Regions from separate parts of the Homo sapiens genome. Here region 1 is linked to region 2. Evidence: fine-mapped expression QTL. A gene starts in region 2. The other region holds a variant in brackets. All regions are shown on one strand. Distances are between the middles of the regions.

Region 1 (5,383 bases), 39 kb before region 2:
AGTTGAAGACTTCTATTGTCTCCTCGCTGAGTGTTCTCATCTCCAGAGTAAATACATTCAGGCTAAGTCCACAAATGTACCTTGATCTTCTTGTGTACTTAATCTCTACTTTGCTGTAGGAGAGATTTTGCTCTGTCACTGAACCCCAAATTATTACAAAGTGGGGGGAAAATATATTTCCCTAACCCCCAAGACCCACCCCATCCCCAAGAGCTGGGATTCCACACTCAGACTCCTTCCAGGGTTTGAAGTTGAGTGTTCAGATGATGGGGTCTGCCTGCAGAAATAGAAGTGTCTCTCATCCTTTTCACTAGTCATCAGGCTTTCTCTTTAGGAAATATTACACATTTTACCAATCCAAGGGGACAGGCCCAGTTAGATAAAAGCCTGCCAGCTCTGGCTGTGTCTGTCGACAGCTTGATTGGCACTGAGGAATCTGTGGTTTCCCCCAGACATACATACAAGGCACCAGGATGGAACAGCTGCTCTGTGCCTTGGCAGGGGTTGAGGTCCTTGGTCTTGTGGATGAGTTTTGTTTTTTTTTTTTTTAATTAATGACCTTGTTCAATGTGGAATATTAGAAGTTTTTTTTTGTTTTTAACCCAGTCCAACATGCCAGCACCCCAAGGGATTTGGAGATATTAAACATTCCTCCTCAGCTTCAAGATGACAGTTGATAAATGTAACCATAAGATACTGAAAAGAACAAAAGACATGAGGGGAAATGCAAGCCCTGGGGAGATTAATAAATCCTGAGGAGAAGGAGTGAGTGTGGTCAAACTATGGAGCCCCAGCGAGGCCCATTACTTGATCTCTTGCAGAAATCCAGGAGAGGCAAGCAGGATGCCTGTAATTCTGTTAACTGTGATTCCTAGTCCTTAAATGCTCTCAGATGCATGTAACAGGGTATTTATATTCCCTCAGCAAATGAAGCATTGTTTGAAAATTGTGAACAATGGTTGAGTTTGGAAAGACAGTGTAGTCTAAACACTAGCATTGTCAACGTCCTTTGCACTCACTCCCTAAGGAAGCCTCACTGCCCAGCATGTGCTGTGGTTCTCAATCTGTGTCACCCTGAGCCCTCATGTTCCATGGAGGTTCTTCTGGGGCAGCTAGCTGGGAGCAGGTAGTCAGACTTCCAGGCCCCTCCACCTGCTTCTGTGAGAGCGGCTGTTCTGCTCTTTCCTGCTGTGTATATTGAGAACCACAGAAGGTTTTGTTTGGGTTCTTCTGCTCCAGAAAAGAAACTTGAAAATCAATGGTGCCATGGTGTTTGCATCCTTTTACAAGTTGCTTCGTTCACTCAGTGGTATGTTTTTGAAATACAACCATGTTAACATATGTAGATGGAGTTCAATCAAGAACTTGTAGAATAAACCACAATATGTTCATTCCCCTGCTGATAGATATTTAGGTGGTTCCCCATTTTTTACCATCTCAATTAATGCATCAGTGGAGGGCATTTTCAACACAGGCAATGGGCGGTGCCCATTAAGCTGGACAAGAAGGGAAGGACAGCAGGAGGGTTGGATGACTAGTGAGAATGTCAGGGGGCGGTGGAGTAGATGTGCATGGAGGCAATAGATCTAGGGCCCCCCAAGAGCCAAAATGGGTCTGTGAGTTGGAGGATCCAGTGGTAACACAGAGTGGGCGATGATGAGGTCTGGAGTGTGACCCAGGGACTGGGCACCTGAGAGTAAGGAGGAAAGTAAGTTTGTCAGAAACCTGAGAGGCCAAGGTGTTGGCTAGGTCGTTGGCTGGACATTTCCGTGTGGTCCTTCAGCTACACTGTGCATCCTTCTCAGCCCTGCTCTGTGCCCCAGAGGCTGACCTTTAATTACCATCTCAGTGCCCTTTCCCTCAGACTGAGAGATACACAGCCTGGACCAGGGAAGACATGGAGACAGAGCATCCATTCCTCCAGCCCCTCCCCTCAAGGTCCCTGCAGGTAGGCCGTGTCTCTACTGAAACCCACCGCTCATTTCCCTACAATTCTTCTTTCTGGTTATAGCAAATGCCCCCAGCACCTTGTCTTGGGAGCCAGCGTGCTCATCTTGGGTTTCCTCCATGCCAGGGATCATTTTATTGACCTCTTTTCCTCCATTAACCTGTTTACATGTGCCATCTCTTTCCTGCCTGATTGAGTACAGGCCAATCTCATGCATACTGAAATCTTGGGAAATGATGACAAGAGTAAGGGTAGATAGGAAGTCAGTTAGCTGGGTGCAAAAACCTAGTGAGGGGCAGTGTCTGTAAATCTGCATAAAATACAAACTATCCTACATTTTTGTAGTTCACATGTGAGCTCCTTTAAAACTAAAATTCCTGCCTAAATTTTTAGGGGAATTTCTAATGTTAGCACAATATCTGGCATGTAGAAAGCATTTAAAAATGAACATAAGTTGAATAGGACTGAATTAAATTAAATGGAATTAAATTGAATTTTACTGAATAAATGAGATGCTAATTTTGCACATTTTAGACATCCTGGGTGTTCCCCCGTCAAACCCCCTTCCCTCTAGCATATGGTTTATAAAAGCTTCATGAACATCAAATAAATTACATTAGGGATTGAGTTTCTGAAGTGAATAATGAATAATAAATGTTTGCTTATGTTAGCATTTCA[T/C]GTAGAAAAATGTTTAAGTCATGAAAATTTTGTGATAAATTCAGATCCCTTTAAGCTTTCAGGACCCACTTTCTTTTTTTATTTTTTGAGACAGAGTCTTGCTTTGTCACTCAAGCTGGAGTGCAGTACACGATCACGGCTCACTGCAGTCTTGATCTCCCAGGATCAAGTGATCTTCCCACCTCAGCGTCCTGCGTAGCTGGGACTACAGGTGTATGCCACCACCCCTGGCTAATTTTTTTTATTTTTTAGTACAGACAGGGTCTCACTATGTTGCCCAGGCTAGTCTCAAACTCCTGAGCTCAAGTGATCCTCCTGCCTCGGCCTCCCAAGGTGCTGAGATTATAGGCATGAGCCAGCATGCCCAGCCTGACTCACTTTCTTGATATTGTGTGTATTTTGCTCTTGGAAAACTTTGCTTTCTGTCTCCATGGCAAAAAAACAACTTACAGTGTTTTCAGAACATGTAATTATTGATTTGAAAATAATTTTGTTAGACACATATCTATTAACATTTTCTTGAATTTATAATATTGAATAGGAAGAAACAAAATATAAAATCTTTCTTGTTTTGGTTTTAATCTAAAATACTATATGTCTTTGCATCATATGAGTTAAAGCTTTTCTGGCATTACACAGTGATTGTTCTCTCCAAATAACAGATCGTAGAGATAGTAGGGGAAAAGCAAAGTAAACATGGCTCAATTTGCATTTGGTATTTTTTCGGAGGGTGTGGGTATTTCCTCTTTTTTCCTTTCTCCAAACACTACACAAGCAATAATTTGACTCTATCCCTGTGGCTGCTATTGTCTATATACACATGAAGTTGAATTTCATAGTGCCCGTTATTTGGAAAACATTTAAGTCAGACCTTAAGATTGGGCCTTTCATGCCAAATCAAGGACAGTGGCTAATTTGGGGTTGCCAAAATCACATATTCAATTCTTTATATTCTGTAATAAGAAAAGTCATTTTAAAGCAAAGGATATTGTTGGCACTTATGAATAAGAAATTCTGACTATTCTAATGCAGCAATAAAAATTATTACCTGCAGTCTTATTTTGGAGTAGCCCCAACATAAAAAGTCCAGAGCTAGTAGCTTAGCAGATTTTAACATGTGACAAGTAAGGTGACAGTCTAGAGTCAAAGATTCTATCTCCGCTCTGATTATAGTCTCAGAAATGCATTCGGCTGGTCATAAGAGGAGGAAGTACTGCATGGTCCAGACTAGAATGCTCAACTGGGATGACTTGATCTCCTGTGCCAGCTGCCATAGATGAATCACAGCTCCTGAGGACTGAATTAGGGTTCCCTGAGGAGTGTGCTGGCATCAATTAGTGATGTCTCCCACCACTGGCTAGGGTGGGGGGAATGGCAGCACTCAGGACATGATAGAGATAGCAGAATTTGAAGTTAGAGGATCAGGGTCAGACTCTTATCTCTATCTCTTATTAGCTGTGAGATATCATAATCACCCATTCAGCAATCTTAGTTTTCTCATGTATAAAATGAAGATAACAATTATCAAGAAAATTAAAATTGGTATCACAAATAAAAAAGAATTAAAGTGCAGCTTACATCTTATGAATTGCTAGTGTGTTTTGCCTATCCCAATCTAGTGTTTTCCTTTTTTATCTTTTTGTGTGTATTTGTGTATGACAGGGTCTTGCTCTGTCACCCAGGCTGAAGTGCAGTGGCATAATCATAACTCATTGCAGCCTCAACCTCCCGGGCTCAAAGCAATTCACCCGCTTTAGCCCTCCCGAGTAGCTGGGACTGCAGGCATATGCCACCATGCCCGGCTAATTTTTGTATTTGTTGTAGAGACAGGGTTTCACCATGTTGCCCAGGCTCATCTTGAACTCCTGAGCTCTAGCAATCTCCAGCCTCAGTCCCCCAAACTGCTGGGAGTACAGTTGTGAGCCACCATGCCTGGCCTACTCATGGCATTTTAGTATTCTGTCACTCTTTTGGCAATTAATTGTGAACTACCTACCTACTGACTCACATTAGTGTATTATCTTACTTCACCGTATTTTATTTTTTGTACTGCACACACTTTCTAGCCCATGCCTCTCCTATAGTAGGCAATCCTAAGTGTGAATGAATGTAAACATGTTACTAATAGTATTTTAAAACTCCAAATGCTGACAGGGAGTTGAGTAGTTACTTTTTATTTGAAAGCAGGTATTTTGCATGTTATTTGAAAGGACTATTGTGATTTTATGTTCAGAAGATCATAGTTTTTTGTTTGTTGTTTAAAAACTTTTATTTTTTGAGACAGAGTCTCTGTCACCCAGGCTAGAGTGCAGTGGTGCAATCTCGGCCCACTGCAACCTCCACCTCCCAGGTTCAAGCTGTTCTCGTGCCTCAGCCTTCCAAATAGCTGGGACTATAGGCGTGCACCACCATACCCGGCTAATTTTTATATTTTTATTAGAGATGAGGTTTCACCATGTTGGCCAGGCTGGTCTTGAACTCCTGACCTCAAGTGATCCACCTGCCTTGGCCTCCCAAAGTGCTGGGATTACAGACATGAGCCACCGCGCCTGGGCAACAACATTTTAGTGGACTTTATTTTCAAGGAACTGAGCTGCTTTCTGTGCTTGGGCAGCTCCCCTGAGCAAGTTTGTAGAGGGTGCAGGCAAATGGGCTTGGTGGCACAGGCACAAAGGAGGGGTCTGTATATCTGTGGGGAGACTGCTGACACCCACCGGTAGGTCCCACTTTTGGGGCTGGCGGGTAGGCAGGGCACTG
Region 2 (5,383 bases):
CCCTTTCTGAGCACCACCTCCTCTGCCAGGCCCAGTGTGCCCAGGCTTCCAATAGCTGTAACCCAAGCAGGGTGCTGGAAGGGTTTTCATCAGGTACCATGGCTGTCAAAAACATGTCCGCATCCCCTCCCCTCAGAGCAACGGAGCTTAGTCAAAGTTCCTAAATTTCTAGGGTCGCAACAGCCTAAAGCATTAAAGCAATGCTGGCTCAACCCCATGGAATGAGCAGCTCAGCCCATTGCCTAGGCCAGGCCAAGGTCCCCGTGCAGATTTAGAAAGTCAAGGGCTTGTTGGACAGAGGGACAGGGATCCTTGCCTTTGTAGAATTTGAATTATGCATTAAATAAAAGAACAAGAAGAGTTTACTACTTCTTGATATTGTATATTTCTTAGTCAAATGACTAAGAAATAGTGAATATTTTCTGTTATTTAAAAAATCCTGTCATATTCTCATCTGATAGTTACTTTTTTCAAAGGACAACCACATTCTCAATTCCTCAGACTGAAACATTCAGTTTTTATAGTTTCCACAGCTTATAAAGACAAAGGCATTTGGCTGCTTGCATTTTAATTTTCTTGAAGACCTAAAAATGGTTGGCAGATCAGAATGAATAAACAGGCTTCAGTAGTAAGTCCCCAAACCCTCACACTTTTTTTTACTCAAGCTATTTATGTAGCACAATTCATCCGATTTTTAAAAAATATATTATGAAACATTTGTTATGCAGAAAAGTATGGATAACATAACAAAGACCTTTGAACTCACCATTCAGTATAAGAAATAAAACATGACCCATCCAGTTGAAGTCCCCTCTATACCTACCCCATCCCCAGATAACTACTTTTTTAAATTTGATATCATTCCCATGCTCTTCTTATTTTACTATGGTTTTGTTTTGCATGTTTTAAAACTTCATATTAAATTATAATACATATTATATGCATTCATCTGTCGTTTTCTTTTTCCCCTTGACTTTGTAATCATGAGATTCATCTATGTGGTTATATATACACATACATATATCAAACATTTATATATCACATACATATATAATATATACATATCACAGTTTACATATTCATTACTAAATATTGCTAAATTGTTTTACAAAGGGGCTATACCAGTTTGAATACCCACTATCAATATATAAAAGAATTCTTGTTGCTTTGTATCTTTAACAAAACTTGGTAGTTTTTGCAGTCTGGTGGGTGAAATGGTACCTACCTCATTGAGGTTTTAGTTTGTATTTCTGGTTGTTAATGAGATTAAGCATGTTTATTTCATCAGATTTCAACTCTTTGAATAATCTGTTTATATCTTTTGAGTGTTATTCTATTGAGAGGTTTTGGTTTGGTTTGGTATTTCTCATTACCTTATAGGAATTCTTCATGTATTCTGAATGTTAAACCTTTCTCATTTCTGTGCACTGCAAGAATCTTTCCTCAGCGTGGCTTGTCTTTCTACTTTGCTTATGGTGAATTTTGGTGCACAAATATTTTAGGTTTTCACATAGTTACATTTTATCAGTCTTTCACTTTTGCTTTGTCTAGATCTTGTCTAAGAAATACTTCCCTACCTCAAGATCGTATTTTCCGGTCAGGCATGGTGGCTCACTCCTATAATCCCCGCACTTTGGGAGGCCAAGGCAGGTGGATCACCTGCAGTCAGGAGTTTGAGACCAGCCTGGCCAACATGGTGAAACCTCATCTCTACTAAAAATGCAAAAATTAGCTGAGTGTGGTGGCGGGCACCTGTAATCTCAGCTACTCGGGAGGCTGAGGCAGGAAAATCACATGAACCCAGGAGGTGGAGGTTGCAGTGAGCCAAAATCACCCCACTTGCACTCCAGTCTGGGCGACAGAGTGAGACTCCATCAAAAAATATATATATATATATTTTCCAGTATTTTCATCTAAAAGCTCCAAGTTTTGCATTTCACACTTAGTCCTTCAAATCTTTCTTGAGCTTAATATTTGTGTTTGATTTGGGGTAGTGATCCATTTTCTTCCATTTGGAAAACCAGCGGTCCCAGTACCCATTTATTGACTAGCCCACCTCTTCCTCACCAATCCCGCAAGGCCATTTCTGTCATCTGTCAAGGCTTGGGCTCTCTGCCCTGTTCCACTGGTCTTTTTGTCTACCCCGGGTGACAAACATGCTGTCTTAATTACTTTATTTAAAAAAATAAAAGGGTCTTTGGCATTCAGTAAAGCAAGTTCCTCCACCTCTCCACCTCATTCTTTCTCAAAATTATTTTGGCCATTTTGGGCACAACTTTAATCTTTCTCCTCTCCTTGATTTGCCCTAGCCTACTACAAGCAATCAAATGGCAAGACTTAAAGTAAGCAGAAGGGAGAAATCAAGCCAAAGCCAGCCCTGGGTAGTCCATAAGCTGAATATTTGGTTCCTAATAACTAAGACATTGCTGTGTAGTCAAGAGTATAGACAGCCTATATATTAATAAAAGTAGAGTATGTGTTTACAAAAAAAACAAAACTATTTTTTTAAATCTTTTCCAGGCTATAACAAGGGCCACATTTAAAAATAGAAACTGGAGCCCATCCTCTGGTCAGTACCAAGGTTCTTGCCTTTATTTTTAAAAATACTACTTTTAAATCTATTTTTTGCATACAGATAGTCACAGAGAGTTTTGTGAAATAGTGCTAAAACTGTTCACTTTTGCCTAGATCCCTCAGAACATCCAAACCAAAGGTCAGTCACTAGGAGACATCCCAGGAGCATGCTAATTCCATCACAGCAGGGCCTAAGAATGAGGTCATCTTTCTCTCATTCAAGGGAGACCTTAGTTTCCTGCTCTCAGCGACACTTCCATAGCCTCATGATAGCTGCTTGGTGTTCTACAGTGTCTCCAGATCCAGACCCTCTTATATGGACCGCAGGACAAAAGGACTCTGGCCACCCAGCAGGCCATGGGCATGCTGTCCACGTGAGTTGGCGTCCCTCACACTTTCTCTATCTCATTCCCTTTCCATTCAGAATCTCAAGAGAAAGCTGGTTCTAGAAGGTTCTGTGTAACCTTCTCTGGAATGTTTTGCTGACTTCCCATAACTTGCATAAAGGACAAGTTCCTTTGAAACCCGAGTTGTAAAAGATCTTCCTTGCCCAGGTATTTAAAAATAATTCATCCTTTAAGTCAGAAATATATGCTGGATGTTGTCTTCCTGCAGACCAGCCCCTGCAGGCTAAGGCACCTGCTGCAGGGGGAGGGCCCCGGGAATCCCTGTGGCCTCCTGCAGCCCTGCTTCCGGCTTCCCTCTGCCCTCGGATGCCCGTCAGGACTGGAGCCGGAAGGTTCACTGACTGACCTTAAAGGCTGGCCCCTACGTCCTTTCTCAGCCCGAGCAGAGGCCCAGCGCTCTGCCGTGGAGGGCCTACCTCACAGAGCCTGGTCCGCAGAGAGCAGCCCCAGGGCTGCCTGAGTCTGCTCAGGGAAACAGGGCCACAGCCCGGAGCAGACACAACCTGGCCAGCAGGGCGCCATCCCCTTTGAGGGCAGGGAAGGCGAGCCAGGGAGGCCTCCAGTGCAACCCTGACCATCCTCCTCACCCATGTCCTGCTCACCAAGCCAGCTAAGGGTTGAGGGCCTCAGCTCAGTGAGGATGGTCACAGGTGATTTTAAAAGATGGGAGGGGCCAGGCGAGGTGACTCATGCCTATAATCCCAGCACCTTGGGAGGCCGAGGCGGTGGATCACTTGAGGCCAGGAGTTTGAGACCAGACTGGCCAACATGGCAAAACTTCGTCTCTACTAAAAATACAAAAATTAGCTGGGCGTGGTGGCATGTGCCTGTAATCCTGGCTACTCGGGAGACTGAGGCATGAGAGTTGCTTGAACCTGGGAGGCGGAAGTTGCAGGGAGCCGAGATGGGGCCACTGCACTCCAGCCTGGGTGACAGAGTGAGACTCTGTCTGAAAAAAAAAAAATTAAAAAAATAAAAGATGGGAGGAAAACATCTCATGTTTTATGCTCTGTGCTACAATTCTCCTCTCATTTATAGCCCCTACCAAGTCTTCTCATAAATGGGTCTGGGCACCTGCTGGGCAGCAAAGGCTGGATGGGAACGGTGTGGGGGGCTGAGGGGCACCACACTCACCCCACCCTCTGCTTGTCTGCAGGGCCCCCAAGGTTGCTTCGAAGCCAAGGCAGGCATCAAAAGCCAAAGTGGCCTTCTGCACCAGCATCCCTCAGGACACCCTGCTGGGGAAGGCCCGGCCCGGCACAACAGCAGACTGAGGCCCCCACCCTGAAAAAGCCTAGGACATTCCTGGGCACTGTCATTTAGGGTGCTGTACAAATCACCTCCGCCTAGAAAATGGAATTCAACAGTCAGGATACAGATTTCCAAGGCCAACTGTTGGCCCCAACATGCAACAGTGAGACCATAAGCCTCCCGTGGGCCACATTTTGACAGTGGATGCCCTTCAGGGTGATATATGCTATAAAGCAGTTTTCTATCACCTAAGTGGTTTTTCTTGCCAACAAGAATTTTTACCCATCAGCACTACTGTGGCTGAAAAACTTCTCTTCAACAGTTCAGTGCGCCCTGTGCAGGAGTCAGCCCGGCATCTGCTTGTACACACAGCTCCTTGCATAGGTGTGGAGTTAGATCTGGACAGTGAACTTCAGGAAGTCCTTTCTTATAGGAGGCTAATAGGGATTGAGAATAACATGAGAAGAAAACGCTAATAAAGGGAAACCTGAACACGCTGCTGTCAGCATGTGTTTTCAAAGTGCAGCCTGCCTCAGAGTTCTTCGGAGCCTGAAAAGGGGTTTGAGAAAGAGCCCAGTAGGAGGGGCAGGAGGCCGACACACCTGACTTGGCCTGGGGCCCAGGAGGCAGGTGTAAGGGAGTGAAAAGAAAGGCTAGCCGGAGGCTGCGGGGGGAAGACCGCAGACTCCCTGCTGCTTCGCATCCCTCCTGTGGCCTCCACTGCAGGCAGGACAAACCTGGATGCCACCTGGAGCTGCTTCCTGAGTTGGCACACTATCGTGTACACAGCAGTCTTCAGCCCCCTGGAAGGAGGCCATAGTCGTGTGAGGATGGCAAAGTCGAACAGGAAGCTTTGAGTGCCTTCCTCCACGATGTCAACGAGGAGATCCAGTGCCAGATCGAGGTGGATGGAACACCCAGGGGTAGGGGTGCAGGTGTGGGCAGTGATGTCCCTTCCCCTCCCTCCCCTGGTCCCACAGACTGTGGCCATGAGGCTGCAGGCTGGTGCTATGACAGCAGATTGCAGCACAGGGCCCTCCCCTCCAGCCCCCAGTGGGACATCAAAACCACCCTGGGGCCATTTGTGCAGGGCACCACCTCCAGTATTGATGGGGAAAATAAACTCAGTAGAGCCACGACAGGGTGGAGAG

Which allele goes with the higher level. Alleles are on the strand shown, and positions count from the first base shown. SD is a standard deviation of normalised expression in the study named.
As copies of C replace T in region 1, the expression in tibial artery of the gene that starts at base 2,948 in region 2 goes up (moderate effect, 0.40 SD a copy in GTEx).

What was found. PIP is the estimated chance that this variant, and not a neighbour inherited with it, causes the effect. A credible set is the group of variants that fine-mapping cannot tell apart.
Region 1: its variant is the best candidate, but not a certain one, in a credible set for the expression of TTC23-AS1 in tibial artery (GTEx, PIP 0.87).

The regions. Positions count from the first base shown.
Region 1 is chr15:99,175,511-99,180,893 of GRCh38, reverse strand. The region is part of intron 9 of TTC23 (tetratricopeptide repeat domain 23); the gene reads left to right. Among named protein-coding and RNA genes, the nearest start is that of TTC23-AS1, 39 kb to the right of the region's middle. The variant T/C (reference allele first, on the strand shown) is at 2,627.
Region 2 is chr15:99,136,882-99,142,264 of GRCh38, reverse strand. TTC23-AS1 (TTC23 antisense RNA 1) reads right to left here and starts at 2,948. Exons shown (of 2, transcript NR_186223.1): 1 at 1,226-2,948. TTC23 (tetratricopeptide repeat domain 23) reads left to right here. Exons shown (of 14, transcript NM_001288615.3): 13 at 2,866-2,948; 14 at 4,138-5,383. The coding sequence ends at 4,255. It also overlaps a transcript of SYNM not described here. RefSeq lists an enhancer at 5,000-5,383.